4 separate regions of the Homo sapiens genome follow, and regions 2, 3 and 4 are each reported to be linked to region 1. Evidence: microRNA targets listed by miRTarBase, many of them from high-throughput screens and not tested one by one. Region 1 holds a microRNA gene; each other region holds the end of a gene's coding sequence.
The links. Region 1 holds the annotated microRNA hsa-miR-4638-5p (ACUCGGCUGCGGUGGACAAGU, at 1,835-1,855, shown strand). A microRNA usually pairs through its seed, bases 2 to 8, with sites in the 3' UTR of a target mRNA and lowers its output. Matches are read on the target gene's strand: a 7mer-m8 pairs with bases 2 to 8, a 7mer-A1 pairs with bases 2 to 7 and ends in A, and an 8mer does both.

Region 1 (3,000 bases):
ACTTCCTCCTCGTCCTCCTCATCCTCCCCCCTCAGGTCCTCCTCCTCCATGTCCCCCAAGTAGTAGTCCAGGTCTTCCTCCTCGTCCTCCTCCTCCCACACATAGTCCATGTTGTCCCAGCTGGACCTGCTCATGCCACTGGTCCAGAACACACCCTCTTCTTCCTCCTCGACCTCCTCCTCCATGTCACCCTCGTAGTCTTCATCCCGCATGGGGGTGTCCCACCCCGCGCCAGCCCCCACAGCCTCCACTTCCTCCTCCTCTCCGTCCTCCTCCTCCTCCTCCCGATCTAACTCATCTCTGTCCTCCTCATCCTCCCCACCCCACAACTGGGTTACACAAACTCGGCAGAAGTTGTGCCCGCAGCCGATGGACACGGGGTCCGTGAAGTAATCGAGGCAGATGGCGCACACCGCCTCCTCCTGAAGGGTCTGCACAGGGTTGGGTGTCATGGCAACGGCAGCCATCTTAGTGTCCAGCCAGCCAGTGTAGAGGTTCGGTGGGGGGGCGAGGGGCGGGGGTCTTCCCTACCGACGCCCTGGCGACCCGGCTCCACCCCCAGCCCTGCCCCTCCACACCTCGCCCCAAGAGCAGCCAGAGAGATGTCCTGCCGACAACCCACCCCAACACAGTGTTCCCTACTCCCAAACGACAACCGTGTCTCTACGAGGGGAGGGGACAGTGCTGGGCGCCACCGCCAAGTCCCTCAGGTGGCTCTGAGTACAAGTCTGCCCCAATGCTCCCTTGGACTCCTCATAAACCCCCGCCCCTCCTCACTTCCTGGCCCCGCCCCTAGCTTCCGGCCTCCTTCCCAACACTTCCGGCGTCTACACACCACCTAAGCTCGCGACTTCCCTCCGCTGTCCTGCTACTCCCCCTTTTTCCCCGCGGGGCCCCAGGGCGACAGGAAATGGCGAGGAGACGCTCTAGTCCGCACTAGAGAACAGGGCGGGAGGGCTAGGACGGTGGAGGCCCGCGTCTCTGTGGTAAGAGGCCGCGGGGAACGCAGAAAGAACAGAGGAACCGCCTACCCCCATCCCCCGCCGCTGGGGAGAAACTTCGGGGGGTAGGGGGAGCGCCTGGCGGCCGTCTGCTTTCGGTGCTATCACCGCATCGGCCAGACGCCATCCTACCCTCCCGGCACAGCCGACTGCAGCCGGTACTCCCCACAGCCGATGCCGGAAGCGAGGGGGTGGGTCCGCGGCGCGCCCTGAAGTACTTCCGGCCCTTCTAGGCAGACGACTTCGTTGTGGAGGACTCAGAGGGTCGTCCGGGTCGGACCGGGGGCGGGGCCTGAGAAAGCGCTTCGCGGGTTAGGGCAGCAGACGCCCCACCCTTCCCCAACTGTAGTCGGCGTTTCGCATCCGAGGTAGAAACTGCCAACCGGACACTGTCTCATGGTTTAGATGAACTTCCCTAACTGCCCAGCAGTGAAGAAGTGGTGACGAATCATTACATCTACATTCTCACAGCATCTCTGCAAAAATAGATGCTTTGTGCGGTAGAAATAATACTTGATGCTTAAATAGCTCTTTAAATTTTATTTTTATAGAGATTTGATGTCGATACATAAATAAATAAATGTTGTTTGATGCGAGAAAAATGACGGGGCCATGATTTATGTACAGAATCTCCAGTGAGTGCCAGACACAGCGTGACGCCAGGGCTGGGCCTGCAGAACTTACCCTGCTCTCAAGGCGGCTCGCGGGAAAACTCCAGATGGACGTCGCGCTTCCTAGGGGGGTGGTCAGGCCTCTGAGTATGTCAGATCAAACGCGCCAAAAACCACGAACCCTCGTGGGTGAACTATGCTAGGCCATTACAGGACCTGCGGACTCGGCTGCGGTGGACAAGTCCGGCTCCAGAACCTGGACACCGCTCAGCCGGCCGCGGCAGGGGTCCCCGGGCCTGTCCTACAAGGGCGCTTGCCTAGAGCTATCCCGGCCGTCTCAGCCGTGTGTGTCTTCAGGACGATGCCGGCAGGAAAGTAGCCAAGGTGGTTTCCGTAGTGTAGTGGTTATCACGTTCGCCTCACACGCGAAAGGTCCCCGGTTCGAAACCGGGCGGAAACACGTTTTGGTCTGTTCGGGAGATTCTCTCCCGAGGCCGGCCTTACGTGGCAGGAAGGACATGTGTGTCCCTGCGCTTCGGAGGAACACGGACTGGGGCAAAACTGAAGGAGAGCACTACTCAAGTAAATTCAGGTCTCGCCCCTCACCTAATCTCTTGCTCTTCCCTTCTGAAGCCTATGCAGCCATCACATGTACAGGAATCCGTAGATTTCAGATCCTCGGCTCTAGTGCCTAGAACAGAGCCAGGCGCAGGCGCTTCTTAGTATTTGCACAGTGGAAACGTGCTTACACCTCTGAGGGTAACCTCCATCTTCAGAGACAAAGTTAGAATACAGACATGGCCGCCCGGCTAGCTCAGTCGGTAGAGCATGAGACTCTTAATCTCAGGGTCGTGGGTTCGAGCCCCACGTTGGGCGTAATTTCGCTTTTTGGAAAGGTTAAGGCAAGTTGTGTTACCTAAGTGCACAAATGGTATTCTCTGTACCAAGACCTAGTGGGTAGCAGATTCACCAACAGTGGGTGTTAGAACTTGGACTAACCTGGTGTTCTCCGATCCGTGTGTGGAAGGCCCCGAGCAGAATTCTCACAACGTTTGCACCCTCGCTAACTCTCAAAGAAAGAATGAGAGGCGGGTACCTGTGGACCAATTCCTGCAGGCCAGCACCGCGGGCTATCGTGCATGCATGACCCTTTGCTGTAGGCCACTCGCCCACGGGCAGCACATATTAGGCATTTTATGTTTACCAGACGGCCTGCCCCCGTCTTGCTGTGAGACTTGCTGTGCTGGAGGGAACAATGTGGTTTATCGAAACTGGGGTGAGACCGCAGGACGACCCCAGGCGTTCGTGAGCGTCAAAACCTATCTGATTCACTCCCACTTTACTGGGAGATTTAGTGGTTAGGCTTCCGCCTTTGTCTCGCTACGACC
Region 2 (7,868 bases), not on the chromosome of region 1:
TGGAATAGAAGACTTGTAAGATCCATTTGAGCTCTGGAGTTTTCACTATGGAATCTCAAAGCCAGGAGTTAGTCTTGCACCCAATATCACAGTGCTAAAACTTGGATTTGTAAACTCAAAATAATTTAGAACATAATTCAGAAACTAATGATAAAAGGTAAATGTAAAACTTGAGCATCTTTGTCCTTGAGAATTATGTCCCACAACATGAACTCAGCCAGTATCAAAGGCATTCAAAGATGCCTTTCAATCCATTTTGCCTCTATTACAAATGCTGCCATGTGAGACAGAGACCCAAGGATAAAAGCTGACAAGTAGTAGAGAACAGAAAAGCCCCATAAAACAGATGTTTTAAACATGAAGCAGGTGTTGATGTTTATTTATACCTGGCTGCTGCATAGATTGACATTCTTAAAATTTCAAAGTAGAGTTTCTCCCCCACAGACAAGGGACAATGAAAACAAATAGACAAGTCACAAAAGAAATAAAAATGGTAAACAAGCATATGGAATAATGTTCAACCTAACTAATAAACATGCAAATTAAATCAACAAGGAGGTACCAATTTTTTTCTTACCAATTTTTTTACTAGTGTATTTTTCTGTGATGACAAAGATATAGTGAAACTATATTCTCATACATCACTGGTAAGTGATAGCATAAATTTGTACAGGTCTTTTGGAAAATATGTAATGATAAGCATAAAGAATGATTTATATATTCATGACCTTTGATTCTGCAATTTCACTAAGAACACAGGACAAAGCAATATGCATGAAGATGTTCACTGCAGAGAAAAATTGGAAACAGCCTCTAAAAGTCCAGAAATAGATGAAAGATTGTAAACTTTGTTACATCTACTCAAATATTATATAGCTTTGTAAAAATGATGTTCTCAGAGGCTATTTAGTAACATAAAATGTTTATGACTTGTGAAATGTGGTAAACTACCAGATCATATATATACACACACATATATATATATATCTTTGGCTTATGCAATGTTTTTAAAATTTTAATTTAGTGAACATTTCCATACTGAGAAAATTTACACAAAAATATGTTTGTTTGGCTCTACTCAAAAAATCAGAATAACTGGCAAAACTGAGCCCTCGTACATGACAATTATTTGCAGCTGAGTAGTAACTCTTCCCTTTAGGACAAAAAATATATAACCCCCTTTGATCTACAGTCCCAATCCAATGGCTCGTGGAAGCATTTGAGTTCATAATCCCTGACCTAAATTTAAAAATCAGGGTTTAAAATTATACATATAGGCCAGGCACGTGGCTCTTACCTGTAATCCCAGCACTTTGGGAGGCTGAGGTGGGCGGATCACCTGAGGTCAGGAGTTTGAGACCAGCCTGGCCAACATGGTGAAACCCCGTCTCTACTGAAAATACAAAAATTAACCAGCCGTGGTGGCAGGTGCCTGTAATCCCAACTACTTGAGAGGCTGAGGCAGGAGAATTGCTTGAACCCGGGAGGCAGAGGTTGCAGTGAGCCAAGATTGCGCCACTGCACTCTACCCTTGGCGACAGAGCGAGACTTCATCTCAAAAAAAAAAAAAATTATTATTATACATATAAATTTTAAATATGCACATAAAAAAGAATGAAATATCCCAAATTGCTACGAATGCTTGGTTGTCTTACAGTTCTGATATTATAGTTGATTTTTTTTTTAATTTTCTGCACTTCTCTTTTATTTGGAAAATGGGTTAGAAATTAGAAATTAGAAACCTGAGCCAATGTGACCTCTCAGTAAATGTCCAGTCTTTTAGTAAATACCAATAATCTCCAGCAACAAAAAAAATAAAGTGAAGACGATATATTTATTTCCCCATAATCTTGTGACCAGGTGGCGTGTTACAATGAAAGCAAGTGTTGCCCCAAATTCTTCTAAACGTACAATTGTTATTGGCCAGAAATTCTACCTTTGCTTCCTGTAATCCCAAATAAGTCCTCCTTTCTGTTCTCAGCCACAAATATTGAAATAAAAATGGCAGTGAAAGTTTCATTCTTAGGCAGACACAACAATATTCCAATAATAAGATCCGACAACATATCGTCAGGTGTGTGAAGTAGGCAGATAAAAAACAAATGGAGCTCTAGGCCTTGAGTACTGCTGGGTTTGACAGATTTTTAGTATCTTCTTCCTAAAAAAGGTGATGGAAACCAGACAGAAAAGTATTCCTAGTATCATTTACACAGCTTAATAAACTTTCGGATACAAATTTTGATGAAGATAATTGAAATGATTAAGCAACCATCTCTAGAAAGTGGATTCCTGATTAAGATACTTCAAATGCTAACTATATGTCTCTAGAATATATGATAAAGTTCAGTTACACATATGCATAATTCACACTACATGTTTAAAAATGTTTAAAATAAATTGCTGCATAAAAACTACAGATGTTTTTTTAAAAAGTAATGATCTATAGGCCTAAGCTTCCTCTAGCTATTATGTCATTATTTTATTTCTGTATTTCTAATTCTATTCTCTCCAAATTTATTATCTTTAAATACTTAGAACATAGGTGAGAAACAATATCAAATAAATCCGCTATAGCTAATAAGTGATTAAATGATGAGACTCAAGCTAAAATCTGGTTGCCTGACTTAGTTCTCCACAACCCAGTGTTCTAAATCCATATGTTTAAGTGACTTGAAAACTGGATACCCAAATGTCCATCCATAGTGTGTCAAAACAGAAGATGGAAGAATATTCTAGAAGTTAATAACACTTGCTGAAACATTGTAAATAGCAAGTTCAAAGTGGCTACCCATTTTCATCCTGTACGTAGTTGTGATTTAGAAGTTATGAGAGTATACTCCCTTCACTGCAAAATATTTCTTGTGATATTAGTAATAGAAAGTGATCCGAGGAAATGAATAAATACATTAATTCAATGGAAAGGAAGCCAGGGTTGTGCCATGATCCCTCTCTGGGCATTGGAAAATAGTCAGATAAATTGGTTTCTGCTGCTACCACTGCAGTTCTTTTCCAAAAGTTACTGCCATTAGTCGGATAACTCCTAGGGAAACTTAACATTTAATGTCTTCACTAAAGAAAGGACACTTGATGATGGTCTTGAAAAACCATCACATTGGAAAATATGTGATAGTGATTGTATTGGCAACTCAGATACTGTCACAGTTGGGTTCCCTGAGGGAAATTATTTTGAAATGGAGATTGGCATGAAAGAAGTCTATTAGCAAATTCCTGTGGAGGAGAGAAGGAAGACAGGCTTGGGGAAAGGGAGAGATTTTACTAAGATGCAGTCACAACAAAAGCCTCAGCCAACCTAATAGGGAACTCTGGAGCAATGTAAGTGTATGTGTGTTGTGTGTGTGCGCGCGTGTGTGTGTGTCCATCATAAATATTTTCTATCTCAAGGGAATACAGTTTTTGATCTACCATTCTGATGGGTGGGGGAAGAAAACATTTGACAGATCAGTGGCCACAAACCATGTAGCTGACCTTGTCTTAGTCTATTCTAGCCAAGGTTTCACATCTGGTACAGACGCTGCAGTTACGGTTACTACTTGGCTGAGTTTTCAATAGTCCACTTTCATTCTCCAGTGTCTGGTTTTTACAGAGGTCAGAGTGGTGAATTAAATGGAATTATGATAAGGCTCAACATTCCCGCTTCCACATGGCTTTCCCTTTAAGAAAATTCTAACACACAAGCCAAGAAAGGAATGGCGGTTCTGTCAACTCCCAAGTATGTTCAGTCTGATTATTTATTCTGAAAGTAAGGAGATGACAGGGACAGGGAGTCTAAGTAGGGGGATGATTATTCTGAAAGTAGTAGTCGACAGGCAGACTACCATTGGGTAGAGCCATGAATTCAGTGGACCTAGTGTTAAGTAATACCTGGAAAAGAACTCCATTTATTACCTGAATCCCATATGCCCCTCACTCCAAAAGGTGGACTGTAGTGATACTCTGGTCCTGAAGTATCACTGTCAGCTTGGACCTTGTGTCTCAGCGCCCTCAGATTATTCATGTACTCCCCTTCCCCAGTGTACAGTTATCCAAGTAAATAACCATAGGGACATCATTGCCATACACACTTGCAGTGGTTTTACAAAGACCTTCTTGGAGACCTAGACTTTCCTTCAATCAGCAGTTTCTGCATTTGGAAAATAACAAAGGTCTGAAAATTTGGCAAAAGATTATAACCTTTTATTAAGGTGGCTGTGTCCTATCTCCTGATCACCCATCCTTGAGGTCTTTTGAAGGTATCGTTTGAGCAATACTCATTTTAGACTTATTTTGCTCCTAAAGATGGCATGTTCCATTAACTGTCTCCAAAGCTCTCTGCAGGAATCCTTCAACCTGGCCACTCATTGTGATAATTGTATCCATTTGTCTTCTGATAGTGACTCACTGCCATTGGGCCTCTGTTCTTCCATGTCCATTGCTGTCAGTGAGCTCACTTCTGTAACAGCATCTGGCCTTCAGAACTGCCACTGAGCTTCTCAGGGATGCTGGTGCCCTCTCACCAATGCATTCCTTATCCCTTTAGTACATGTGTCCTCTGTGCCTTCTTGGGTGTCCCTTTGCCTTTAAGAAAGCATAAATAATATTCTGTGCAACACATCCATGAACTGTAAAACCAGGTGTTTGATCTACTGGTTAGAGGGTTTTCTCCTGGTGCATTTTAAAATAAATATTAATATAAAAACTTCCATCCATCTACCACCCCAAATCAACCTGCATACACAGATGAGCCTTTAAGAAGTACTAAAGTAAGAATATAAAAAAAAATGAAAAAGGAGTACTAAAGTAGTCGACAGGGAGACAAAAAGTGGGAAACTCTCTGGCCTCCCACACTTCTGTGGCTACTGGTCCTGCCGAGCACACTGTGACATCTACAGTGGCCACCTGAGGCACCCCTGCGCCCCTCTCATGCACTGCCATGTCCACTGGACTTAACACACATCTAATCCTTGACTGGCTTTAGGATGATGGGAGGTCCTTAAACCCATGAGTGTTTCAGCCTCTCTGCCCTTTAATTTAAAGGGATTATGGAAAGAATATCTATCCCTTCTTATGTCAGAAATATAACACACATCCAGCTGAAAAGTAAATACAGGAGTCTTTTAATTCCTTGTAAGGAAAATTTCCTGGATAATTCCATGTATTTTAATAATCACAGAGATAGTCCTATCCTTATTCATTATCAAAAATACTGTGGTAACAATTTATAGATGCACACAATCTCATCTATTTTGACATAAAAAAGGCAGAAAGGCAAAATACAAATTCTGAGACCGAGAGTAAAACAATACGACATCCTTAGGTTTATTTATTTTATTGTTTGTTTCACTGTTTGAATGTTTATCTTGCGAGAGTCTACAGAATTGAGAGAAAATATCTGCAGGCTAATTTTACATAACATGAGGCAAAGATTAAGCACTAAATATAAAAAATAAAACTTTTAGCTTGCTTATTAAACTAGGAAGAATTTTCCTGAAACACAGCAGTTAAATTGGTCTACAATGCATTAATAAATGGAGAACACGGATCTCGCCTATGAAATATTTTAAACATTGTGGACGCTACCAAAAAGCTCATTGGTATATAAAAATTTTCAAGTCACAGTCCTCTAAGCAGACTAAATACAAGTTAGTTTTTAACCTGAATTCAGAAGTGCAAAATCTGTAAAAATAAAAATATTTCCATTTTTCTCAGCAATCTATGGATTAACCTTACAAATCCTTAAAGTCTTTTCAGTAACATGAACCATGATCTCTTGACAAGTTCCTTGCTTAAGTGGCAAGTAACTTTTGAAGCTGGACTTCTCAATCTGTAGAGAGAAGCAAGCTGCATTCACAGCATTGCTCCCTTTTGAAAATTATCTTCTGAAGAGAAGAAGGTCCAGCAAAGATCTTCAGTGCAATACTCCCTGCATATGTGCAAGTCTGCATGAGAGGTCCCCCCACAGGTGCAGCTGCCAGCCAACGAATCAGAAACAGATGAAAGAGGAGAGAAGAAAACAGAGGTCAAACACTTCAGTTTACAGATGCTATTCCAGATAAAATGCCAAGGGCTTGGCCGGGCGCGGTGACTCACGCCTGTAATCCCAGCACTTTGGGAGGCTGGGGCAGGCGGATGACGAGGTCAGGAGATCGAGACCATCGTGGCTAACATGGTGAAACCCCGTCTCTACTAAAAATACAAAAAATTAGCCAGGTGTGGTGGCACGCGCCTGTAGTTCCAGCTACTCCAGAGGCTGAGGCAGGGGAATCACTTGAAACCGGAAGGCGGAGGTTGCAGTGAGCCGAGATCGCACCACTGTACTCCAGCCTGGGCGACAGAGCGAGAGTCCATCAAAAAAAAAAAAAAAAAAAAAAAGAGCGAAAGGCTTTTGGAATAGAAATGGACAATATACAAAGATGAGAGAACCAGATATCAATAATGTTGGGAATTTAAAATGCAAGTACAACACATGAATACATAACTCTTTTTTTTTTTTTTTTTTTTTTTTTTTGAGACGGAGTCTCGCTCTGTCGCCCAGGCTGGAGTGCAATGGTGCAATCTCGGCTCACTGTAACCTCCACTGCCCGGGCTCAAGCGATTCTCCTACCTCAGCCTCCTGGGTAGCTGGGATTACAAGCGCGTGCCATCACACCTGGCTAATTTTTGTATTTTTAGTAGAGACAGGGTTTCACCATGTTGGTCAGGCTGGTCTTGAACTCCTGACCTCATGATCCACCCACCTTGGCCTCCCAAAGTGCTGGGATTACAGGCATGAGCCACCACGCCCAGCCATTCCTTGTCATTTCTATCATTTGATACATCTATACTTCTGAATAATCATAACTGATACTCAAAGAGATGCCCTGACACCCTCCAAGGTTCTACAAGGTGACCAAATCAGAGAGGTCACCTCATGCCTAGTATTATTTTGGGGTTAGCATACATTTTATAATAATTATTTTAAAACTGGCAATCCATTTTGGGACTCAATGACAGCTCTCTCTATTAATCATATTGTTTTATTAACTGAAATAGTCCACTCAGTCAGTAGGATTAATGATCAGAGATTATGACACAACTAAAACCAAAGCTGGGGCAATGGGCTCTCAGAATGGAACCACCCATTATGAACTATCCATCTGACCAACTCTTTAACTTTCTTCCTAAATATGAGATCACCAAGGCGTTTCAATGCAGCCTGCACAATTCATGGGGCAGGGTCCTCAGATTAAAGACTTTACATTTATGTAGAATTCAGTATCATTTTTCACTAAGCAAACTCTATTTGCTCACTCTCTTCTACATGTAATTGTCCAACTTTGGTTGACTGCTGAGTCCTCATGGAAGAATTCCCATTCTGCCCCTGAGCCTCTCCTTTAGGGACTTGGAAACGGAAGGTAGTGCAGTTCTTTCTGGCCATCTGCCAGGCATGGAACCCCAGGCTTCTTGGGGTAAGTTCGACGAGCAAGCTTAAAGAACTCTTCTGCAGCATCAAGTGCAATGAGACGGTCCTGCAAAAACAAACAACAAACCAAAAAACTGCTGGCAAGATAGGAACCAAGACATGTCGATGGGAAAAAGCAATCTAACAACAACAAAACCCACCCTGGAAATGACAATGAGCAAGTAAGACGTTTATTAATTTTTTCCTAACAAATGTAGAGACACGCCTTAATCCTTTAGTTACATTATCCAAGAAACATTTCCCCACTCCTTAGCGTCCTTTCTCCTTTCAGATTATTTCTTAGTCTTATAGGTTAAATAAACAATACTTCTCACATCTCTTTGACCTACAAATGGTTCAGAAAATAGACTACACAGTAGAATTCACTGAAAAATACAAACTCTTGAGCTGGAACCCAAGCCTCAGTAGG
Region 3 (7,868 bases), not on the chromosome of region 1:
GGGAGCACATGAACCAACACGCACAGGAGGGGTCCTGGTTCAGTCCCATTGATGCAGCGAGTGAGACCTAAAGTGCAGGCTAACCAGGTATTGTTAGGTGCCTGGCAGGAGACTGAGGCACTTAAGGGAGTAAGTAGAGACTGATTACAGGTAGCCTGTAAGGGAGAAGTAGAGAAGTTATATCCAGTGCTAATTAGAGAAGAAGTATTCCCGGACATGTCTCCTAGTATGAGGGCATGGGGGCGTGTATGACAAGAAAGAGAGCCCATTTTATTTTGTTTTGTTTAGTTTTGTTTGAGGCAGAGTCTCGCTCTGTCGCCCAGGCTGGAGTGCAGTGGCACAATCGCGGCTCACTGCAAGCTCTGCCTCCCGGGTTCACGCCATTCTCCTGCCTCAGCCTCCTGAGTAGCTGGGACTACAGGCGCCCACCACCACGCCCGGCTAATTTTTTGTATTTTTAGTAGAGATGGGGTTTCACTGTGTTAGCCAGGATGGTCTCGATCTCCTGACCTTGTGATCCACCCACCTCGGCCTCCCAAAGTGCTGGGATTACAGGCGTGAGCCACTGTGCCCGGCGAAAGAAAGCCCATTTTAAGCATAGCTTCTACTCCTAATCCAACATCATATGGGGGTTTGGCCTTCAGGCACAACCAACAATCTCGGGCTAGTTGAGGCCGGGTGAGATTAAGGAGGTGCTGTACCCTGTCCAGAATGGACATCAGGCTGGGTTGGAGGTGTTGCCGTTGCAGCTGAGGTTTAGAAACCAGGAACGGCGGTGGGAAAGTTAAATCGACCCTGTCTGGGTGTTTTGGGAACATAGGATTACCTAAATCAGTTAAAGGTCCGATTGGCTTAGGAGAGCTCTATGGGACCAGGATTTTTTTCTGGATGGTGAACATAGTTCCAACATTAAATCCTGAGATATAAAGCCTTAATCCCCATGACATGCCATAATACCATTGAGCTGTACCAGGGTTATGGATAGTTGTAGGAAGAGGGTTGCAATTTCTCATAGTACACAGTCTAGGATGGGAAGTGCGAGTTATGGAGAGGGTTGAGGACTGGGTTGATCCTCCAGGGTAAGTGGCTAGGGTTACACAGGACCAGCGAGGGCAGAAAAACTGATAAGAATCTTGACAACTTCAGTCAGGGTGATTTCCAAGACAGAGGTAAAAGTCAGCCTCCTGGAGTCCTTTTTCTGCACCTTTAGAGCTTCCACATGCAGTCCGGCTTCCTATGTGTCCAAACCCTGCTGCAAGGTCGACGTTCCCTGTTCCCATGACCGGCAGATTGCGTTGCTCTTCACGGGTGAGGGCAGGCTCTGGGAACAAAGCACATAAATCGACTGCAAAAGAGACTTCCTTGGAGGTCCCCGCCTTCCAGGTGGTGATTGCAAACACACGTCCTGTCGTGAAAGAAGTAAGGAGAAAAGAGTAGGAAGGAGCAGAGGGCATGACAGGTGGAAACAAACAAAAGAGGTAAATAAAAAGAATTAATCCAATGGCTTCACTCGACTTAGGTGCAGTTTTAAGGGGCCCGACCCAGGCTTGGGGTCTGTGCTGGGGTCTTGCTTGGGGTCTTGCTGGACTTTGTTGGCCTTTTTGATGTGAGAGTGATGAACCCAAGCAGGAATGCTGTCCACTTTCAGATCTGTCGGCATGGTGAGGATGACAGTATGAGGTCCTTTCCAGGCAGGAGTGAGTCCTTCCTTCTGGAACTTTTTTTTTTTTTTTGAGACGGAGTCTCGCTCTGTCACCCAGGCTGGAGTGCAGTGGAGCGATCTCGGCTCACTGCAACCTCCGCCTCCTGGGTTCACACCATTCTCCTGCCTCAGCCTCCCGAGTAGCTGGGACTACAGGCACCTGCCACCACGCCCGGCTAATTGTTTTGTATTTTTAGTAGAGACGGGGTTTCCCTGTGTTAGCCAGGATGGTCTCGATCTCCTGACCTCGTGATTCACCCACCTCGGCCTCCCAAAGTGCTGGGATGACAGGCGTGAGTCACCGCGCCCGGCCGAGAAATTTTGTAACATGCGTTGGAGAGGGCTCCAATCTCTACAGGGCTGGGAAGAAGAGTTTCCCATTCTGGAGGCAATTAACAAGGTTTAAGCAGAAATATAAAACCCAGCACGGACAGAGAAATTCACGGCCTAGAGGGCTGCAGTATCGGAAGAACAGAGGTAGATGTGCGGGGTAAGGGATGGGGATGAGGAGGAAAAGGGGCCACTCGGATCTTCTCAGGCTGGGAGGAGCCGTGCTGGGCAGCGCTGGGTCGCCAGGACTACTCCGCAGTCCCCCCGCCCCGCCTCCAGGCCCCGTCAGGCGCTGCAAGCCCAGCTCAGAAGCCCGGGCCCGGGACCAAGGTCACCGCAGCAGTCCGGGCCCCTGCGTTCTGAGCCGGGTGCGGACGCGCCGGTAGTCGGGGAAGTCAGGGTCTTTGACGCCTGAAGGCGCAGGAGCGGGGGTCCCTGGGGGAGAGGGTCCAGCACCGTCACCTCCCACTCCTCATCCGTGGGTTGGGGAGCCCCTGCTGTGGGGGAAGGAGGCTGTTTCGTTTGTAAACTGGCGGAGGAGTGGCCCCTGGGCCTGGCAACCCGAAGAGACACGCCTGAGACCCCCTGTAATAGAAAATCTGCACTAAAGGACTTTGAAGAAGTCCTTGCCCAGTCGTCTTGGGCAATATGGGTGACCTGACCCATGAAATTTAGACAGACACCAAACAGGACAATAGACACTAAACAGGACAATAGACACTAGGGTATATAGACAATTATGACAATTTTTATAGACAGACAAGGGGTGGGGGTCCCGTGATGGGATCAGTCAGATGCCCGCCTGGCCACTCCCCTTGTGAGGACTCAGGCTCCTCTTAGCTTTGGCAGGCCGGTATAAACGCCCGTTCAGATCCAGCTATGCTCAATGCTGCCCTAAGCCTTATGAGGTCACCACGGAACCACAGGTGAGGGCCCACTCGAACTCTGTAGCTTTTGCCGTGGAGCTACAAACTGAAAATTCAAGCGCGAGCCCTTGACCTCCACATTCACTCACTCACTCACACAGAGTTTATTACAATTCTTCAATACCCGTTTTAAAACAGAGGTCTCCTTGAGACCTCAACGAGAGGAGAAGAGATAGAGAGAGAGAGAAAGAAAGAGACTAGTCTTACAGAGATGCCTGACAGAAACCAGGACTCTGTCCTCCAGCATCCTGGAATTTGGACAGAGTCAGAGGGATGCCCTCATCAGAGCCGCTTCCCTCCCAGAGAAACAGAGTCAGACAGAAACCAGGACTCTGTCCTCCAGCGTCCTGGAATATGGACAGAGTCAGAGGGACGCCCTCATCAGGGCCACCTCCCTCCCAGAGAAACAGAGTCAAATCTGACTTACCTTCCCGGGACCAGACACTGAGGACTCAGGAGTTGAATTTGGTTGAGGACACCGGCAGCCGATCCGTTCCCCTCTGGAAGACGGTGGCCTACACGTCCCTGGAACGTCTTTAGGTGGCGCCTCCCCTATAAGCTCGCCGTCTGTCCAGGGGAGCCCGGAACGGGTCCAGATTTCACCCGGTGGCGGATCTCGCTGTGGCCTCCAAATGTTGTAACTGAGTGAGTTATAGAGAAATGCCACACTCTTAGACTAATTCAGGAGTCCTTTATTAGCCGGCGACTGAGAGACGGCTAGCGCTCAAAATTCTCTCCACCCCAAAGAAGGGGCTAGGTTTCTTTTTATACCTTGGTTTAGAAGGGGAAGAGGGAGCCGAGCTGAAGCAATTTTACAGAAGCAAAACAGGCAAGAAAGTGAAAAAGATAAATGGTAACAGAAAAACAAACAGTTCCAGGTGCAGGGGCTTTAAATCTATCACAAGGTGATAGACGCGGGGGCTTTGGGTGCTATCAACCGGACGAATTCCTGGGAATTGTGGATATAGCTTGTCACAGTATCTTATCAGTAATCGCATTCTTGGATGTGCTGGGAGTCAGCTTAAGTCCTTGAGGAAGGGGGGTGGGTGAGAGACTGCAAGCGAAGAAGCCAAAATAGAGTCTGCCTGGCCCTCTCAGCTAAGGGAGAGTCAATCACGTTAAACACAAGGTAGGGTATCACATTGGAATTACAGGCATGAGCCACTGCACCCAGCCGACATCACCATCCTTCCTGACTCTGAATTTATATACTACTAACCAGCAATCATTTTCCTCCACCTATTCAACACAGAAGTACCTAACAGTAAAAGATGAGAGATACCTATCTGGCATGTGAGAAAATGATATATAGCTACTGACGGGGATTTCCTTTGAGGATGCTGAGTAAACTTCGTGGTGTGTGCCTGCATTTCCACTGCAATCTATCACATGTGATGAGTTGTGGAATTTCCCACTTGTGGCATCACACTGGGGCTCAAAGAGTTTCAGATTTTGGAGCATGTTTTTTTGTTTTTTGAGATGGGAGCCTTGCTCTGTCACCCAGGCTGGAGTGCAGTGGTGTGATCTCAGCTCACTGCAACCTCAACCTCCAGGGTTCCTGCCTCAGCCTCCCGAGTAGCTGGGGTTACAGGTGCCCCCCACCACACCCAGGTAATTTTTTGTATTTTTAGTAGAGATGGGGTTTCGCCATGTTGGCCAGGCTGGTCTGGAGCTCCTGACCTCAGGTTATCCGTCCACTTTGACCTCCCAAAGTGCTGGGATTACAGGTATGAGCCACCACGCCCGGCCTAGATTTTGGAGCATTTTGAATTTGGGATGGTGAATCTGTACTGTTGTTCCTCTCCCCCCACAACCATCTTGCCGATGGGGAAACTGAAGCATTGAGAGGTGATGGAAATTGCTGGAGGTCATATAGCTGGTGAGTGGCAGAGTGGACTCAGAACCCAGGATCATCTGATTGCAAAATCTGTTTCCTTCATCTCTGTACTGTGCAACAATGACAAGAATACTATTGGCGATAACAACAATAACCCACAAATTTTGACTTGTCATTCACAACAACAACAAAACAATAATAACAATACATTCACCTCTGGGGTCGAAACCCATATCCTAGAATCCTAGGAACTAAGGATTCCCTCCAGCCACACTGCAGCAATGCTCATTTGCATAGACCCTCTAATTTGTATGCATATCATTATCTGCCCCCACCCAACCCACCAGCTCCCTGTGTTTTATGCTTCCAGCTGGCTTGGCGGATTGTCATTCTGTCCTGGATGTGTCTAATAAGGGCGTCTTGCGGGATGTAGCCTCTACTTCCTCAGGAATTGTGGATTGGAGAGGAAGCCAGATCCAGACGTGAGGTCTCTGGTTTCCCCCACATTTCCTGCATGGACTTGAGCCAACTGGGTCCAGGTTCCTCATCTGTAGAATGACCTCCATGGGTCATTACCTCCATCCCTCTGCCTCTAGGAGCCACCACTTGTTGCTGATGGTTGCCCCCCATCCGACTCCTCCCTTTCCCTGTGGGGCTCTTTAGGCCTGACAATTCCTCTCCACCCTTCTTCAGTTTGTTCCCCTAAGAACTAGACAGATCCAGGTACAACTATTTGCCATTTATTTCAAAGATCAGTGGTTAAGAGGCCCAGGGTTATGAACAAGGTCTGGTCCTCACCCCGAGATGTGTTAGTCTGGGCTGGGGAGGGCCCTCAGGCTGTGTGTATATGTGTGTAATGTTGTGTGTTTGTCATTGTGATGTGTGTGTGATGTGTGTGTCATTGTGATGTTGTGTGTGTGTAATGTTGTGTTTGTCATTGTGATGTGTGTGTAATGTGTGTTTGTCATCGTGATGTTGTGTGTGTAATGTGTGTTTGTCATCGTGATGTTGTGTGTGTAATGTGTGTTTGTCATTGTGATGTTGTGTGTGTGTAATGTGTATTTGTCATGGTGATATTGTGTGTGTGTATGTGTGTAACCAGGTCTGACTATAACTTGGTCTGTCTGTGTCTAATGTAATGAGTATTAATTACCAAGTGTGACGGTGACACCTCTGGGAGTGGCTGTGTAGCTGGGATGCTGTCTGAGTTTTGTGTGCTTGTGTTATAACATACACACAGTGCTGTGACTGTCTGTGATGCCGTCTGTGACTTCCATGTGATTGTGTGGTTGTGCATGAATCTGGCACTTCGCGTGTATGAGTCTATAGTTGTGAAAGAGTGGCTGAGATTATGCAGCCATGTGACAGATTTTGTGGGATGCCATAGGTGTGACTGTAGAGTCATTCTTCCTTCCTTTCAATCAGCAAGCATTTCCCTAGAGCATGCTTTGTGCCAGGCCCTGGGCCGGATGCCGGGGACAGATCCGTGGTGTCCTATTAGGGATGTCTATGCTTGGCAGTGATGAAATCAGCCATGGTGGTAGCATTTACACCATGGAAATTGGCAAACATTACAAAGCTGTCCCCCTCCCAGGACAGCTGGTTGTTAAACAGTTATGAGCACGCTGCCGTGCTCATGTATCTGAGTGTAACTCTTTGTGACCAGGCTGAGGTGTGGCCACCAGTCTGTGGGTGGGATCTGAGTATGTGGGGTGGGGCTGGGCTCTTCATGATGAGTCCCGATGATCAGTCTCCCGCCCACCCTGTCCGTACTCATGATGAGAGTAGGGAAGTGGATGAAGTTTCCCACCCCCAGCCAAGTCCCTGGAATCCCAAGCCCCACTTTCTTCTGAATCAAAAGCATAAATACCCACCCCTCACCCCTTCTTCCTGAATATCAGGCAAATCAACTTTACCCCATGTTTGGGGGCCCACAGACCCCAAGTCTCTGGGTTTTTGTCCTTAGTATTGTCCGTGGCAGGGTCTGCAGTCTACGTGGGTCTTCTGAAGGTGCCTGCTGGGGCTTCATCTCGCCTTGGTGGTGCCCACTGAGCTCTCCGCCTTTGAGTTTTGGGTTCCCTGGAGTGTCCCCCAAGATCTGTTTCCTGAGTTTTCTTTTTTCTTCCTTTCTTTTTTTTGAGGCACAGTCTCACTGCGTTTCCCAGGTTGGAGTGCAGTGGTGTGATCTCGGCTCACTGCAACCTCCGCCTCCCGGGTTTAAGCAAAATTATCCTGCCTCAGCCTCCTGAGTAGCTGGATTACAGGCAGGCACCACCACGTCCGGCTAATTTTTGTATTTTTAGTAGAGATGGGGTTTTGCCATGTTAGCCAGGCTGGTCTCGAACTCCTGACCTCAGGTGATCCGCCTGCCTTGGCCTCCCAAAGTGCTGGGATTACAGGCGAGAGCCACCACGCCCAGCCTCTGCTTCGTGAGTTTTCTTTCCCCTGAGGCACCCTCTGAGTTCTCCACGTGTCAGACCCATGTCCAATGCACCACGCTCCTTCCTTCACACCATGAAAGCCCCGAAGTAAGACCGGGTACCATCACGCAGTCGAACCAGGCGTTCATCCAGCACACGGACGACCACCTTCTCCCCAGCCTCCAGGTGTACCACACCACCCAGGAAGCTGCTGTCCCACCAGACCCGGGAGCTGCTGGTGGCCCGTCCGCAGGGTGACTGCTGGCTGACCAACAGCTCCAGCTCCTCGGGGTAGCGGGGTGTGCGCTTGTAGAGGCCGTGGGTGATGGTGCTGGCCAGGCCCAGCGGGCAGCCCACACCGCCCAGCTGCACCTTGGAGTAGATGTAGTAGTAGCCAGCTTTGGTGACCACAAGGGCCCCATCGTGGTAGCTGAGGCCCCTCAGGAAGGCCAGGCCCAGCTGAGTCTCCCATAACAGCGGCCCCCCGCTGCCGGTCAAGCTGGAGTTGGCCCCTGTTGGGAAGAGAGAGACAAAGGGGGCTGCCGGTCAGCACATGTCTTCCTCTGTTGCTTGTTTGTTTGTTTGTTTGACACAGAGTCTCGCTCTGTGGACCAGGCTGGAGTGTGGTGGCATGATCTCGGCTTACTGCACCC
Region 4 (7,868 bases), not on the chromosome of region 1:
TGCTCAGCCAAGCAGCAGCAGACTATGCTGAGAGGTGCGAGGGCAGGCAGGGCCGGGAGGAGGGCAAGAAAGGGACTGGAGAGGGAGGCAGGCAATGGCCTTTCCCAAGGGGCCCTGGGGAGATGGCCTGAGCAGTCTGGTCACCCCTCCTCTCCTGTCACCCCTAGTGTCCATCGATGGGGTCGAGTGGAGTGACATCAAGTTCTTCCAGCTGGCAGCCCAGTGGCCCACCCATGTCAAGCACTTTCCAGTGGGACTCTTCAGTGGCAGCAAGGCCACCTGAGGCCCTGTCTCCCAGCCACTTTCCCTCCTGGCACTGCCACCAGCCTCACCGCCTGCGGGCAGGGGGAGGCCAGCAGGCCCGGGCCCAGCACCCCTTCCCTGGCACCAGGGTCTGCCTCTCACTCGCCCAGGTCCCGAAGGACACTGCCACAGGGACGCCTTCCCTCCCCTCCCCTCCAGCCCACCCCTGCACAGCCCCTCCTCCTTCCCGCTTTTCCCCTTCTCCCTCCTGCTCCAGGCCCAAGGCGTGTTGGTTTTGCCTTCTGGTGCCCATAGTCCCCTGGACTGAGTCCCCCAGGCCTTCCTTCACCCGACTTCCAAACTCTTCCTTGTGGTATCAGTTTCCTTCTCGGAAATGAGAAAGCTGGAATCCTGGTCCCCAGCAGGAGAGCCTAGTCCTCCCCCAGCCCCTCCAGCCACCAGGGTGTCCTCTAGGATGCAGCTGCCAGATCCACTCACTCTGCTGCCTCCAGCAGGACCCAAGGCCACTTTCAACTCTTATGGGGTTCTCCACCTGCCCCAGAGCTTCTCAAGGGAGGGTAAGGGGGCACCCTGAGCCCACAGGACCCCTACTTCACAGCTCACAGGGGCAGGAGGCAGCTCCCCTGCCTCCAGGACCCTGTTGCTATGGTGACACAGCGTTTCTAGGACAGAGGGGCCTCCCAGTCTCCCCCCACCACCCGTGCACGACTTCCTCACCACCCCCAGGTTCCCTGCAGATGTCGTGTGTGTCCTGAGTGTTTCTTTGGTTCTTTGCACGCCAAGTCTCTTGGTTGTACCATGTGACACACCCTGTGCACTGGTCGCTGTCTTCGTGGCTTCCACCCTTGTTAATGATGCTCCTGCCTCTGCCTCCCAGCCCCTCACCCAGCACAGCTCTGCCTGGACTTGGAGAGATGGGAGGCAGACCCCCACCACCATACATGCTGTCTGTGGCCCCTCAGACATTCTGTTTCATCTCCCATTCATCTCCCTCCTCCCACCGTGTCAGTTTTTCTGCCTTTCCCTGCTCTGTTCTTCCCCCTCCTTAGGCCCCAGCCTGGGCCCAGACCCATCCTCCCAGCCAGGTTTCCCTCCAGCAGGCTCCTTCCCTCCCTGTCACCTCCCTCTCACCAACCCGGGGTCTGAGCCCCTCATTCCTGACCGTCCGTGTTCTCAGGAGTGGTTGAGGACACAGGGCCCCAGCCCAGCCCTCTGCACCCCCCAGCCCGGCCATCTGCGCCCCACAGCCCCTTTGGAGCTTTTCTCTTGTCCTCTCACTCCTTCCCAGAAGTTTTTGCACAGAACTTCATTTTGAAAGTGTTTTTCTCATTCTCCATACCTCCCCCAAGCTCTCCTCCAGCCCTTCCCAGGGCTCAGCCCTGCTGTCCTGAGCGTCTCCTGGGCCAGAGAGAGGAGATGGGGGTGGGAGGGACTGAGTTGATGTTGGGTTTTTCATTCAATAAATTGGTGATTTCTTACCGACTGCCTTGGGCTTCTATGCCCCCTCACTGTGCCACAGGAGCTGCCCAACCCCTTTTCCACAGTGCAGCCCAACTCCAGTGAAAATCCACCAGGAACGTAGGTGGAAAGAAGCGTACTCCCATGTTCTCAATCATGGAAACAGGCATGAAGGTGTCTCACCTGGCATGAGGCAGGCAGAGGTCGGAAACAGGAAAGATGTCATTTCCACACCAAAAGCCCGTTTTTCCCCAGGACCCACCATCCCCAAATCCACCTCCCAAGGCAGTGACGTGTTGAGTGTGGCTTCCCCATCTTCTGATCAAAGGTCAGAACTTAGCTTCTCTCCCCTGCTCCAGGTTGGTGAAGTCCGAGCCAGTGGGGTCTTTGCCTCTGCAGGTGGAGGGAATAGGGCTGAGGGACATCTGTGGAGTTCCTTTTCCTGCCCGCCCTTGACTTAGAGATGGAAAGCAGTGGTAGCCACTGTCCCCTGGGTGCCCGGTTTTTCCACTAGCTTCCAAGACAGGCCTGCACACACGAAGAAGTGTGTGCCTTCCCCATGAAGAAGTGCCCAGAGGTGGCCAGGCACAGTGGCTCACGCCTGTAATCCCAGCACTTTGGGAGGCCAAGGCAGGCGTTTTGCCCGAACTCAGGAGTTTGAGACCAGCCTGGGCAATGTGGCGAAACCCCGTCTCTACTAAAAAATATAAAAAATTGGCTGGGTGCGGTGGCTCACACCTGTAATCCCAGCACTTTGGGAGGCTGAGGTGGGTGGATCATGAGGTCAGGAGATTAAGACCATCCTGGCCAACATGGTGAAACCCCGTCCCTACTAAAAATACAAAGATTAGCTGGGTGTGGTGGCACGTGCCTGTAATCCCAGCTACTCAGGAGGCTGAGGCAGGAGAATCACTTGAACTCAGGAGGTGGAGGTTGCAGTGAGCCGAGATCGCGCCACTGTACTCCAGCCTGGCGACACAGCGAGACTCCGTCTCAAAAAAAAAAAAAAAATTTTTGCCGGGCGTGGTGGTATGTGCCTGTAATCTCAGCTACTCAGGAGGCTGAGGCACGAGAATCACTTGAACCCGGGAGGCGGAGGTTGCAGTGAGCTGAGATCGTGCCACCGCACTCCAGCCTGGACGACAGAATGAGACTCTGTCTCAAAAAAGAGAAGTGTCCAGAGGTGAAGGCTTGCAGGAGAGGCAGCGCTTGGCATCCTTGCCCTACAGGTATAGCCCCAGAGGAGTGGATGGCCATCCAGAGCTTGCTGTCACTGGCCTCAGTCTTGGGTTCCCCAAGCCCTGTGCCCAGACGACCTCACATAGAGAGGCTTGGGGACCCAGCTGTGTGGCCCTGCGCAAACTCTCTGAGCCTAGAAAATGAAAATCATACCTGCCTTCTAAATGAGGTGATAGCGGGGCTGGTGAGAGGAAAGGCCAGGAGAAGCAAATCATACCTAGTGTGACCTGGATCTAGGGTGTGAGTGTGGCTGCAGAGCAGGGTGAAGTGCCCACGAGGACTTCCCGGAGCACAGCCAGGCGAGGGCTGCAGGGCAGGAGCTGTGCAGAGCTGGGGGCCAGGGAGTTCCAGTGGAGGGGGTGGGACAAGTAGACTTGGATCCCAGCTTCTGGCCCCCTTAGGTTCTGGCTTAGAGCTAGGAGAGAGGGTGAAGGGTGAACTCTCAGCCCGTCTGCATCTGACACCATATCCTCAGCCTCCCCTTCTGTGGCAATAAATGCCCCACCCTGCTCCCATCCTCGGGGCCCATCCCTCTTCACTCCTTGAGGGCTTTTCTCCTACAGTCGCCCTCTCTCCTGCACTGCGGGTTCTCCCCTCTGCCAGGACTTTCCACCCACTTACATGCATCCCAAGTGGGTATAGCTCAATATCAAAGACCAGAGACTTCCAGATTCTCTTCAGCTGCCATGCCTTGTCTCTGCTCCCCTTAGAGCAAAACTCTTCCAAAGAGCTGTGTGTGTTCCCCGTCTCCACTTCTGCCCACTCCCTTCCAGTTTTTTCCTCACAATCCCACCAAAAGTTTCCTTTCCACAGTTGCCAGTGACCTGGGTTGCCCAGTCCTATCAGTAGCATTGGATGCAAATAATCACCCGCTTGAGTCTTTCCACCTGGCCTGTGGACAGCTCTGTGCTCTCCTCTCACCTCCCTGGCCTCTCCTTTTTGGCCTCCCTTGCTATGGTGTCCTCAGCTTCCCAGCCTCAAAACCCTGGAGGACTCGGGGCTCCAGCCTCTAATATAGCCTCCTCTCTCCCCACACTCAGCCCTAAAGGGAGCTCACTCGGCCCCATGGTGTGAAATGTGCTCCCCTGGGGAGACTTCCCTCCTAGTAAATGCAAACTCGGTTCTTCAGTTCCGAGGCCGAAAACTGGGGAATCCTCCTCGATTCCTGTTTCTCTTGTACCCACCATCTAATCCATGAGCAAATCCTCCAGGCTTATCCTGACAGTGCCTTGCCCCTTCCTCTACTGCGATTATCTCTTGTCTGGATATTGCAATAGGCTCCTAATTATCCCTGCTCCCACCCTCTTCTCCCTGTAGCCTGTTCTCCACTCAATAGCCAGAGATTTTTCAGAGCTGAGCAGATCGTGTTGGATTGCTGATCCAAACTGTGCAGAGTGTCCCACCTACCTAGGTGTGTAAGCTGAAGCCTTACCTGTGAGGGGCCCACATGGTCTGATCTCCCAGGAGCTGCTGGATCTTAATTCCTCTTACGCTTCCCCTCCTCACTGGCCTCTCAACATTCCTCAAACACCACTCAGCCTCAGGGCCTTTGCACGGACCTTTGGTCCTGTCCATCCTGCTGCTGCCCTCAGGCCCGTGTGGCTTGCTCCATCATTCAGGTCTTGGCTGAAATGTCACCTCAGGAGGCCTTCCCTTCTCCAACCCCTCTTTTTTTTTTTTCTTACTCATATTTCCCACTCCTTGGCATTAATTATTCATTTGTCTCTCCCACAAGAATGCAAGCTCCAAGAAAAGAGGAAATGTTTTTCCCTGTTGTATCCTTGGCACCCAAAATACTGCTTGGCCCATCACAGGTGCACAATAAATACTCGTTTGCAGAATGAAGTTCCCTCTTGCTGCTGGAATTGGGTTCCAAATCCAGATGTGCTACTCAAGACATTTTAACTGATGCCTTAGCCCAAAAGACACCTGGGTTTTCTCATAGGCTCAGAAGTAAGAAGATAGACTCCTACCCCGGGCAAAGAAGAGGAAATCAGCTGTGTAGGGACAGTTTGGAGCACAAGGCAACTCAGGTGGAAGGTGCTGACTCAGACCCTGAAGCAGCTGTGCCCAGTCACCAGGAGTTAAGGCTGGACCAGAGCAGAGCTGCCCAAGGTCCGCCAGAGACTAAAGGCTTTTTGATGCAGAAAGTGGAAGAGCCTCTATCTAACCTGCACGCCAACTCCAGACTGGTTTTATTTTTAAGTAAACTATTTTAGAATACCTTTAGATTTATGGAAAAGTTGCAAAAATAGTAGAAAGAGTGGCTATATACCGCCCTGCCAGTTTCCCTTACTGTTAACATGTTACATTCATGTGCATTTGTCATAACTAGTGAGTCAATCGTGATGCACGATTATTAACTAAAGTCCCTATTTTGGCCGGGCACGGTGGTTCACTCCCATAATCACAGCACTTGGGGAGGCTGAAGCAGGTGGATCATCTGAGGTCAGGAGTTCAAGACCAGCCTAGCCAATGTGGTGAAACCCCATCTCTACTAAAAATACAAAAATTAGCCAGGCGTGGTGGGCACCTGTAATCGCAGCTACTCGGGAGGCTGAGGCAAGAAAATCGCTTGAACCCGGGAGGCGTAGGTTGCAGTGAGCCAAGATTGCACCACTGCACTCCAACCTGGGCGACAGAGTGAGACTCTTTCTCAAATAAATAAATAAATGTCCCTATTTTATGCATGTCCTTAGTTTTTCCCTAATGTCCTTTCTCCATTTCAGACTCCCACCCAGAATGCCACACTACGTTTGGTCATTCTGTCTTCTTTTTTGTTGTTGATTTTAGAGACCAGGTCTTGCTCTGTTGCCCAGGCTGGAGTGCAGTGGTGCCAACCTAGTTCACTGCAGCCTGGAACTCCTGGGCTCAAGCCATTCTCCTACCTCAGCCTTCTGGGTATCTGGGACTACAGGCATGTGTCATTACACCTGGCTCTTTGTTTTGTTTTGTTTTCTTTCGTTTTTTTTGGTAGAGATAGGGTCTTGAACTGACCTCAGTTATCGATCCTCCTACCTTGCCTCCCAAAGTGCTAGGATTACAGGCGTGAACCAACACATCCAGCCCATTCTGCCTTCTTAGGATCCTTTGGGCTGTGACATTTTCTTAGACTTTTTGATCTCTATTTTTGATGACCTTGACAGTTTTGAGGAGTATTGGTCAGGCATTTTGTAGAATGTCCCTCAGTTGGGGATTGTCTGATGTTCTTCTCGTGGCTGGATGGAGGTTATAGGTTGTGGGGAGGAAGACCTCAAAGGTGAATGCCCTTCTCAGCGCAGCCTGTGAAGGGCACATGCCGTCAACATGACATCATGGATGAGGTTGACCTGGGCTCCTCACTGTAAAGTCCCACACACCTGCTCCCATGCTGTTCTCTTTGGAAGGAAGTTGCTGGTGCAGCCCACACTCGGGTGAGGTGTTGATTATCCCTACATGCATCATCTGGGATTCTGCTGTACAGGAGGTTTCAGACTAATCTTTAAACTGCTTCTTTCGCCACCCCTTTCACCTGCCGTGTCCAAGGACTGACAGCATTAATAGCTGTCACCGTCACCTACAGGGCATTGCCTTTGAGCCAGGCTGCTGCTGAGTGCCTTATATGGTTTATTTCATCGAGTCCTTAAAGCAGCCCTCCCTGTGAAATCAATTCTGCTGATGCTTCCTTTTGCAAAGGAGGAAACCAAAGGTCAGAGCCTCCCCTCCCAACTCTAGAGCCTCCCATCTAACCACTTATGTTGCGACCTGAACACTCACAGTCATCCCAGACTTCACATGGCCAAAGCAAGACTCCTGATTTCCCTTGATCTTCCCCAGTCGGCAATGGCACCAGCCTCCATCCTGTTACTCCAGCCAGAAACCCGGACTCATCCTGCGCCGCCCCTCCCAATCCATCAGCAACTCTTGTCCATGCTGCCTCCCAAACGCTGTTTCCAACTATAAGCCAGGGTACCTTCCTCGCATAGAGTATCCTTTGTCGTCCTATCCTCCCAGTGCCCTCTGAATAGAGGCCAACCACCGTCCACCAGGCCCGTGGTCTGGCTCACTACCTTCACTTCTAGTTGCTTTCCCCCTGCCATGCTCACCACCCTCGAGCCACACCTGACCTTTCAGTGCTCACATCCCTCTTCCAACCCCAGAGTAAGCTCCTTTTCCTTTAAGATGTGGCCTTTGTATCACCTCCTCCAAGAGCCTTCCCCAACCACCCCACCCAAAGCCTGGTTGTTAGCCTCTGTCTCTTCAGTCATAGAGTTCACTATTACCTGCAGCAAATGTCTCTGTACCACATTCGAATGAGAGCTCCAGGAGGACAAAGACCCGAGCCGCCGGACTCATTGTTGCAGTATCCAGCACCCTGGCATGCGGCGGACCCTCGATAAAGGTTGGTTCAGTGCATGAGTGAGGGTTAAGTCACTCGTCCAATGCACACATATCGGCTGAGAAGAGGTCAGGTTTCTAAACCCCATCATCTGACTCAGGCCATATCTCAGGGCCCTACTCAGATCCCATCTTCCCAACCATCCATACATCTGGCTTTTATTAACTTCCTACTAGTTCGTGTCCTAGGTACAGCATGAACCTAGGTTGGGTCCCAACCTATACAGGAACGCTAAGGCCAGTAGGGGAGACAAGCAGACCATCGCCACACAGCATGACAGGTTGCACTGGTGCACACAGGAGGGATGTCCACCCTGCAGGAAGAGGTGTCCAAGAAGATGTCCCAAAGGGAATGACACCTGAGTGGCATACTGAAGACATCTGACAAGGATGGATGTTCTGGGCATAGGAAGTAGCATGAGATAAGGGAGATAAGAGAGATAAGGGAGAATGTGGCTGATGCCAAGAACCACACAGGGCTCAGTGCAGCTGGAGACCATGGGGATGGTGAGTGCCAGTGGGAGCGGAGG

Region 2: the mRNA of MREG is a reported target of hsa-miR-4638-5p. Seed matches in the 3' UTR shown: 8mer at 6,553-6,560.
Region 3: the mRNA of TNFSF14 is a reported target of hsa-miR-4638-5p. Seed matches in the 3' UTR shown: 8mer at 6,981-6,988.
Region 4: miRTarBase lists PACS1 as a target of hsa-miR-4638-5p. The part of its 3' UTR that is shown has no 7-base or 8-base seed match.

The regions. Positions count from the first base shown.
Region 1 is chr5:181,221,467-181,224,466 of GRCh38, reverse strand. It overlaps MIR4638 (microRNA 4638), which reads left to right and starts at 1,834; the gene lies at 1,834-1,901. It overlaps TRIM41 (tripartite motif containing 41), which reads right to left and starts at 1,186. Exons shown (of 6, transcript NM_033549.5): 1 at 1-1,186. The coding sequence starts at 467. It overlaps TRK-CTT2-3 (tRNA-Lys (anticodon CTT) 2-3), which reads left to right and starts at 2,416; the gene lies at 2,416-2,488. TRV-CAC1-5 (tRNA-Val (anticodon CAC) 1-5) reads left to right here and starts at 2,000; the gene lies at 2,000-2,072. RefSeq lists enhancers at 1-290, 958-1,187 and silencers at 438-647, 1,918-2,147, 2,398-2,607.
Region 2 is chr2:215,937,493-215,945,360 of GRCh38, forward strand. MREG (melanoregulin) reads right to left here. Exons shown (of 5, transcript NM_018000.3): 5 at 5,092-7,505. The coding sequence ends at 7,371. Among named protein-coding and RNA genes, the nearest start is that of MREG, 72 kb to the right of the region's middle.
Region 3 is chr19:6,657,624-6,665,491 of GRCh38, forward strand. TNFSF14 (TNF superfamily member 14) reads right to left here. Exons shown (of 4, transcript NM_001376887.1): 4 at 3,630-7,727. The coding sequence ends at 7,303. Among named protein-coding and RNA genes, the nearest start is that of TNFSF14, 8.6 kb to the right of the region's middle.
Region 4 is chr11:66,242,998-66,250,865 of GRCh38, forward strand. It overlaps PACS1 (phosphofurin acidic cluster sorting protein 1), which reads left to right. Exons shown (of 24, transcript NM_018026.4): 23 at 1-34; 24 at 168-1,747. The coding sequence ends at 283. It overlaps LOC124902694, which reads right to left. Exons shown (of 3, transcript XR_007062737.1): 2 at 3,179-3,376; 3 at 1,713-2,115. It also overlaps a transcript of KLC2 not described here. Among named protein-coding and RNA genes, the nearest start is that of KLC2, 11 kb to the right of the region's middle.